Homo sapiens: one gene and its partner. The protein of the gene in region 1 interacts with the protein of each later gene in a pairwise test. Each region holds a gene or a part of one and is shown on either strand. Other genes may lie near its edges.

Region 1 (4,151 bases):
AACATACTTAAAGTGTTTTATGATGCCACAAAAGGCTGGCCCACTCTTTTTTTTTTTTTGAGATGGAGTTTTGCACTGTCGCCCAGGCTGAAGTGCAGTGATGTAATCATTGCAATCATGGCTCACTGCAACCTTGACTTCTTGAGCTCAAGCGATCCTCCTGCCTCAGCCTCCTGAGTAGCTGGGACTACAGGTGTTTGCCACCATGCCTGGCTAACTTAAAAATTTCTTTATTTTGTAGAGATGGGGGTCTTGCCATGTTGCCAGGCTGGTCTTGAACTCCTGGCCTCAAGCAATCTCCCTTTTTGGCCTTCCAAAGTGTTAGATTACAGGCGTAAGCCACCGCGCCTGGCCCCCACCTTTATTTTTATTTTTATTTATTATTTATTTTTTTTTTTTTTGAGACTGAGTCTTGCTCTGCCTTCGAGGCTGGAGTGCAGTGGCACGATCTCGGCTCATTGCAATCTCTGCCTCTGCGGTTCAAGCGATTCTCCTGCCTCAGCCTCCCGAGTAGCTGGGATTACAGGCGAACGCCACTACATCCGGTTAATTTTTGTATTTTTAGTAGAGACGGAGTTTCACTATGTTGGCCAGGTTGGTCTCGAACTCCTGACCTCAAGTGATCTGCCCGCCTCGGCCTCCTAAAGTGCTGGATTACAGGCGTGAGCCACCGCGCCCGGCCCCACTCTTAATAAATGCCTGTCTCCAGGTGCTGGGTGGGAGGTGGGATGGAATGGAATGAGGTGAGGACGCATGGATGCATGGATGAATGGATGGGAAGTTGAGACGACGCGCCCACACGAGGGAATTTCCTTTGAAAGAGAGCGAAATTCTGAGTTGGGAAACTCTTCCTTGAAACGCCTCCCCATACCCCAGCTGTGGCCTTCCCGTTTTCTGCGTGGTGGTGTGGGGGGAACTTCCTCAGGCCTCTCCGCAGTGGAGCCTCTTTCGGTTCTGCCAGGATACCTAGAGGCAGCGGAGAGCGGGGCAGGGAGGGGAAAACCGTGAGGGTCCCTGTGGCAGGCCCCAGCACCCATGGGATCTCTCTCCGGTCGCAGGAAGCAGGCTAGCTCCTAGCCCGCCTCGGCTTGGCCTTTGTGGGACCTGGGGGCAAAGAAGAAGAGCTGTCTCTGGGACCATGCCTCCTCCCGTACACAGCAAGATGCGTCCCTAAACTCCCGGGGGAATTAGACTTGTGGGAATGTTCTGGGGAAACTCCTGCGCGGTGAATTGCTGGGGGCTCCGCCCCCCCGATAGGTGGACCGCGATTGGTCTTTGAAGACCCCGCCCCTTTCCTGGGCGGGGCCAAGGCTGGGGCAGGGGAGTCAGCAGAGGCCTCGCTCGGGCGCCCAGTGGTCCTGCCGCCTGGTCTCACCTCGCTATGGTTCGTCTGCCTCTGCAGTGCGTCCTCTGGGGCTGCTTGCTGACCGCTGTGAGTTGTTTTTGCCCCGACCAGACGGGAGTTGGGAGTGGGGAATGAGAAGGAAAGGGAAGGAAGACTTCGGGGAAGAGGCCTTCCTGGCTGATTTTTGTGGGGGCAGGAGGGTGGGTGGGAGCTGGGCAAGGTGCCCCCGCTCCTGGCTGAATGGGGTGGGCTGCCTCTCTCTTCTCCCGGGCTGGGGTCCCGGGAGCGGCCTACAGGGGCCGCTCAGGGAAGGCACTGGCTGCCCAAGCGTGCCTAGACGGCCTGGACGGGTTTAGGGAGCCTCAGAGGCTGGCCACACAGAGACTGGTAGGGGGTTCAGAGGGCGGGAAGTGAGGCGGACCAAGGGAAGGGGCGGGTCTGGCCCGTTTCCTGTCCCCTTCTTATTGTGGACAGATGCCAGCCTCTGTAAGTAGTTATCATCTCCTTGCCAGCTGGGGCTGCCTTCTTCCAGGGCATCTTGTGGGAACAAGAGATGGGTGCAGAGGCCCAGGTACTTTTGTGAGAAGGCAAGGAGCTTTTAACATCGCCTTCCACCCCGAACCGTATCTTGGGTGTTCCAACCTAGGAGGAATCCCCAGGGCTTTGCCTTTTTCTCCTGAATTTAAGATGACATAGGAGACCCCTGGGGAGATGAACAGTTTATGGGACACAATAAAGGGTTAGGAGACCAGAGTTCTGGTTGGCTCTGACAGGGCTGGTGATCAGAGGGCTGGAGAAACCAGGGGTTTCTCCAGGCACCAGAGGGGCTCAGAGCCAACCAAGCATATCTCCGGGATTTTCAGAAGCCTACACTTGACTCACTTTTTGTTTAAATGTATTTTTGTAGTTCCTCATTCTGGAGGCTGGGAATCCCCCAAGTACCTGGCTCCTTCATCCCAGCCCCTCTGGCCTCCCCCTACTTTAGAGGGCTGTAGATTCCTGCCTGAAGCCTGGGCAGGAATGACCCATGGTATCAAGGAAAGCAAGGGAAGCAGCAAGGGAAGAGAGGGAGTGGGGAGGCTGCTTTGGTCCCACAGCTTTCACTTTCACCTGAAGCAATGGCTCTTAGGGAACAGGGAGGCAGGGGGAGGGCGGAGCTGGAAAGAGGTAAAGGGGGGCCCTTGTGGTAGGAGTGGAGAAAGAGCCAGAGGAGGTGGGGTGAAGGGTGTGATCCAGGCTTCTCAAGAGCAGAGTTTGCCCTCATAACTCCCAACTTTGGCTCCAGGTAGAGGCTGGGCTGTGACAACAATGTCAGAAGCTATCTATTGAGGGCTTCTTGTGTGTCAGGCTCTGAGCCAAACACTGCCTGTTTTCTTTGTCTGATTTCTCACAACTCCCCCATTATACAGATGGGCAAATTGAGGCTCAGAAAGGGGGATTGTCTTGCCAAAGGTCTCATAGCTAGCTAATGGAAGAACCTGGTTGTGAATCTACATCTGCATGATTCCCGAGCCTGCCTCTCAGATAGTGAGAGTCTCCAAGCTCTGGTCCTGAGCTGTTTTGTGGCAGAAGGACCAGAACTATGGGGAGTGAGAACTGGAGATTGACAGACTTTTAGGGGAGCGTTTTATTTCTCATGTGTTTGAAGATGGTATCAAGGACTTTCCTATCTTTGGGAGTGTGGGAGCTCCACGTTCACAGGATGGTGTCTTGCAATGAGCTGGTGGGGGGCAGTAGCCTTTTCTACTTCCTTTCCCATTTTGGGTAAGACACATTTCTGTAAGTAATTTGCTGAGATACCCAGGTTGAATGAGAGCCACCAGTTAGGTAGGATTCTGGACAGCCAGCCAGGTAGCCGGGCTGCTTGCCATATATCATGCAAGCAGAAACAAATGAATGATGATTAAAATTGCCATTTAATGAGCACCTACTATGTTCCTGACACTGTGCTAGGCCATATACATGTATTCTTTCTTATCTTCGTAATCCAACCTGCAGGGCAGGCATTATTACTCCCATTTTAGAGATAGAGAAACTGAGGCTAAGAGAAGCAAAATAACTAGTAAGTGTTACAAAGTCAGGACTGGAGTCTAAAGCTGTCTGACTCTCAAACTTGTGTTCTTTTCACTGGCTGTTCCCAAACTGTGGGACAGTTTTAAGGAGCACATGGACATAGAATTAAACATACACTTACTTTACAGTTCTTTTAAAAATCCTTCTCATTTTTTCAAAGAGGAAGTCTCTGGAGCTAGAATAGAGTTAATGCCTCTCAAAGGCTTGCTAATCCTTCTTTTAAAACAAAAATCAAGAGCAGGCCTGGGAGGGCCTTCAACAAGCAAACAACCAGCTGGGTTTTAATAACCTTGTTTTGTTTCCCCAGAATTTATTTTTAGGGTTACCTTTTATTTATGAGAAGTGATACTGGTTCTTGTCTCTTGGCAATGATGTGAGGTTTACATTTAAAGTAAATGTACCGGCCAGGCACGGTGGCTTGTGCCTGTAATCCCAGCACTTTGGGAGGCCAAGGCAGTCAGATCACTTGAGGTCAGGAGTTTTAGATCAGCCTGGCCAACATGGTGAAACCCTGTCTCTACTAAAAATACATAAATTAGCCGGGCATAGTGGTACACACCTGTAATCCCAGCTACTCAGGAGGCTGAGGCTGGAGAATTGCTTGAACCCAGGAGATAGAGGTTGCAGTGGGCTGAGATGATGCCACTGCACTCCAGCCTGGGCGATGGAGCGAGACTCTGTCTCAAAAAATAAAATAAAAGTATTGAAATTAACAATAAGTAATTAATAGCAT
Region 2 (3,013 bases), on another chromosome or scaffold:
TGTTTATTTCATAGGGAAATCAGAGCTCTAAACCTTTTCTTTGAACTTTAAGTATAATGACAGCATAACAATAAGAAAAGCTTTTCCAGAAGCATACCCATATGAACTGTAGGTTTCTTTTTAAATCAAGCCTTAACAAGGAAGGACCTTGAGGGAGTTGCCCACAATAGTCCTGAGATTCTGAGAAATAAGCAAGCTGGGTGTTTAGGATACTTGCTTGGTAGGGGTGGGGAAATGGTGAAAAAGAGTGTTAAAGGAAGTGGGAAATGGCTTCGTTGCAATTTCTTTTTTGGATTTCTCTATACGTGCAGCATGGTCAGTTTGGTGATACGTGTTCTCCCAAACCTCCCCCGCCTTCCCCAGTAGCTGGTTATAGAGCCAAGATGTGGCCTTTGGGACATAGATAATGCCCTTTTAATGACACTTGAAATTAATTCCTTTAGTGTAATCCTCTAGCAAAGAGATGAGAAAACTGAATTTGTAAAGCTTAATTTTACCCAGAGATTTTGGTGTAGAAAAGGGCCATACATTTGTGAATAGATGCTTAAGTAGGTGATGAAAATAAAATATCATTTGAGCAAACTGTCCTATACCAGAAAGTCTCAGGCACCAAAATAGCTTGGCAGGTTGTAAGATAATGTTCACTTCAAGGCTTTATCCTCAACAAATTAAAACTAGAACAGTTGACATAATAGAAAGGGATACTGTGTCCTTGGTACTCTTGTTTCTGAACTGCATTATTATAAAATGTGTCTGTCAGTAAATCATAGAGAGAATGTGGTACCCTGTTAAATAGCTGTCAACTCTTCTATTTTCAAGTTCCTGTACGATTCTCAAGTAATTCTAAACCTGTTGGAGAAGTAATATTGGTTTCCTTTTTTGCAAAAGTGTGTTCCTTTAGTGATACTTGTGTTCTGAGGCTTCCAGTTACATTTTTAGCAAAGAAAGCATTTCTTAAATAATGGGTAAAGCCTTATAATTGGGAATGTATGTAGACTGTTCTTTTTGTTTTGTTTTGTTTTTTGTTTTGGAGGGGTTACAGTTGGTAGGATCTATTGATTAATGTCTTTTGTGTATCTGGTATTGGGTAAATACTGGAGACAGTTTTAATCCCACCTAGCTTCATACATTGTACTAAGAGACTGAATGTACTTGAGTAGAAGCAATTAATTCCCTTCTCAACAGAGGCATCTCTTATTTAGAAAAATGAACAGATGATATTATTTGGTTACAACTTTTAAGATGACTTCTTAACACTGATCTCAGAAAGTGGATTTCGATAACAACATACAGTTGTCTCTCACACTGGCTGCACTATCCATTGGACTGTGGTGGACTTTTGATAGATCTAGAAGTGGTTTTGGCCTTGGAGTAGGAATTGCCTTCTTGGCAACTGTGGTCACTCAACTGCTAGTATATAATGGTGTTTACCAGTAAGTATTAATCCTTCAATTTTTGGTGCTTGTTTGCTAGATAAATAAATGATAACCGCTTTCAGAATTGAGATTATGAAATGAGGTTAGCCAGTTTAATCTACAGAGTAGTTTATTTTCATTGTAATTATCTTAAGTGTCATTGCAGTTCCTCTGTGGGTATTAAAGACATGTCTGTTATTCTAGATATACATCTCCAGATTTCCTCTATGTTCGTTCTTGGTTACCATGTATATTTTTTGCTGGAGGCATAACAATGGGAAACATTGGTCGACAACTGGCAATGGTAAGCTGATGCTCACTTTTCTGAATAAGATGTGGAACAAATGACAAGTTTTCTCTAAAAGGCAGTCCTTTAAGGGAAAGCAATTTGTGAAGACAACATTCTTTGATTGCTTTTTTGCACTTCCATTGAAATAAATCATTTGGAAGAATTTAATCACAGGTGTTTTAAAAGTTGAGGAGCCACTGGAGAGAAAAACTCAAAATGTGTTATGGATAGGGCAATATGATTTATTGACCATATGGGGGATATTAGTGGTTTTTAAAAAACTAATCTACAGGTCTCCCACTATATCAGAAAAGGACAGTTTTAAAAGTTAAAAAGGTCACTACTAATAAGTGTGTTGCTACAATAGGTATACATTAGGACCACCTCTAACAAATCAAGATGTTTGATCATTTTAGTGATGAAGGAAAAGGAAAAGGCTAGGGAGTGACATTCAGAGGCCACAGCAGTTTTATGAATCAGTGCTGTCACTTTTACCTTTTTAGCCAGGTTAGGAGAATTGAGTGACTTACTTTGCTGTATTTTTGGTAAAATAGCCAACCAATTATCTTACCCTGTTGGTTTCCTTTATTTTGAATTGTGGGTGTACATTTTTATAGCTGTACTTTAAAAATGTTGTTTTGACTGGAAGCTTTTGTTAATGTAACAGATTTTTTCCTTTATATCATATAGCAATTTGAAAATACAGTGATCTGAGTTCACCACAACAGCCCTATCCTTAAGTTCATGAACTATTCTTTGCTAATTTGCCTTATTGAATACTCAAAGAAACCTGCTTTGCTTCCTTTCGACATTAAAAGATTGATCTAAATTCTAAATCATATACTGCCACTACTTGCTTGTAATGCAGAAATCTCATCTTTCTCTTGCTTTTGGCTGTGGCTTTTTCACTTCCAGAATGTGAATTATTTTTTTCCCTGTCACATTTGTCATTTAATCATAGTAATTATGTAACTCTTGGATTATTTGAGGAATAAATGGGCACATAGTAATAAAATGTTCATTTTTAGAGCTTTTCAGTTTATTTGGAAGTTGCTATTCAAAAGAAGTCTTAATCTGTTAACCTTTTAACCTTTTAATTTTTGCAGTACGAATGTAAAGTTATCGCAGAAAAATCTCATCAGGAATGAAGAAGGCAAAAAATATCTTTTGTACAGAAAAGCAAGATGAAAAGGATGTGAAATGGTAGATATACCAACAAAACTTCAGACTGTAAAATTGCCAGGATGCAGTTTTCCCCTTGATTGGCGTGTGTGTATATATGGATAAATATATATATACACACACACAT

What was found.
Region 2: the proteins of CD40 (region 1) and INSIG2 interact in binary tests that used the Homo sapiens proteins (3 or more experiments, as listed by UniProt).

The regions. Positions count from the first base shown.
Region 1 is NC_000020.11:46,116,963-46,121,113, forward strand, and holds the start of CD40 (tumor necrosis factor receptor superfamily member 5 isoform 1 precursor), read left to right. Parts: upstream 1-1,351; 5' UTR 1,352-1,381; coding exon 1,382-1,432; intron 1,433-4,151.
Region 2 is NC_000002.12:118,105,471-118,108,483, forward strand, and holds part of INSIG2 (insulin-induced gene 2 protein), read left to right. Parts: intron 1-1,266; coding exon 1,267-1,433; intron 1,434-1,619; coding exon 1,620-1,719; intron 1,720-2,810; coding exon 2,811-2,852; coding exon of another isoform or gene 2,853-2,892; 3' UTR 2,893-3,013. UniProt on the Homo sapiens protein: Oxysterol-binding protein that mediates feedback control of cholesterol synthesis by controlling both endoplasmic reticulum to Golgi transport of SCAP and degradation of HMGCR.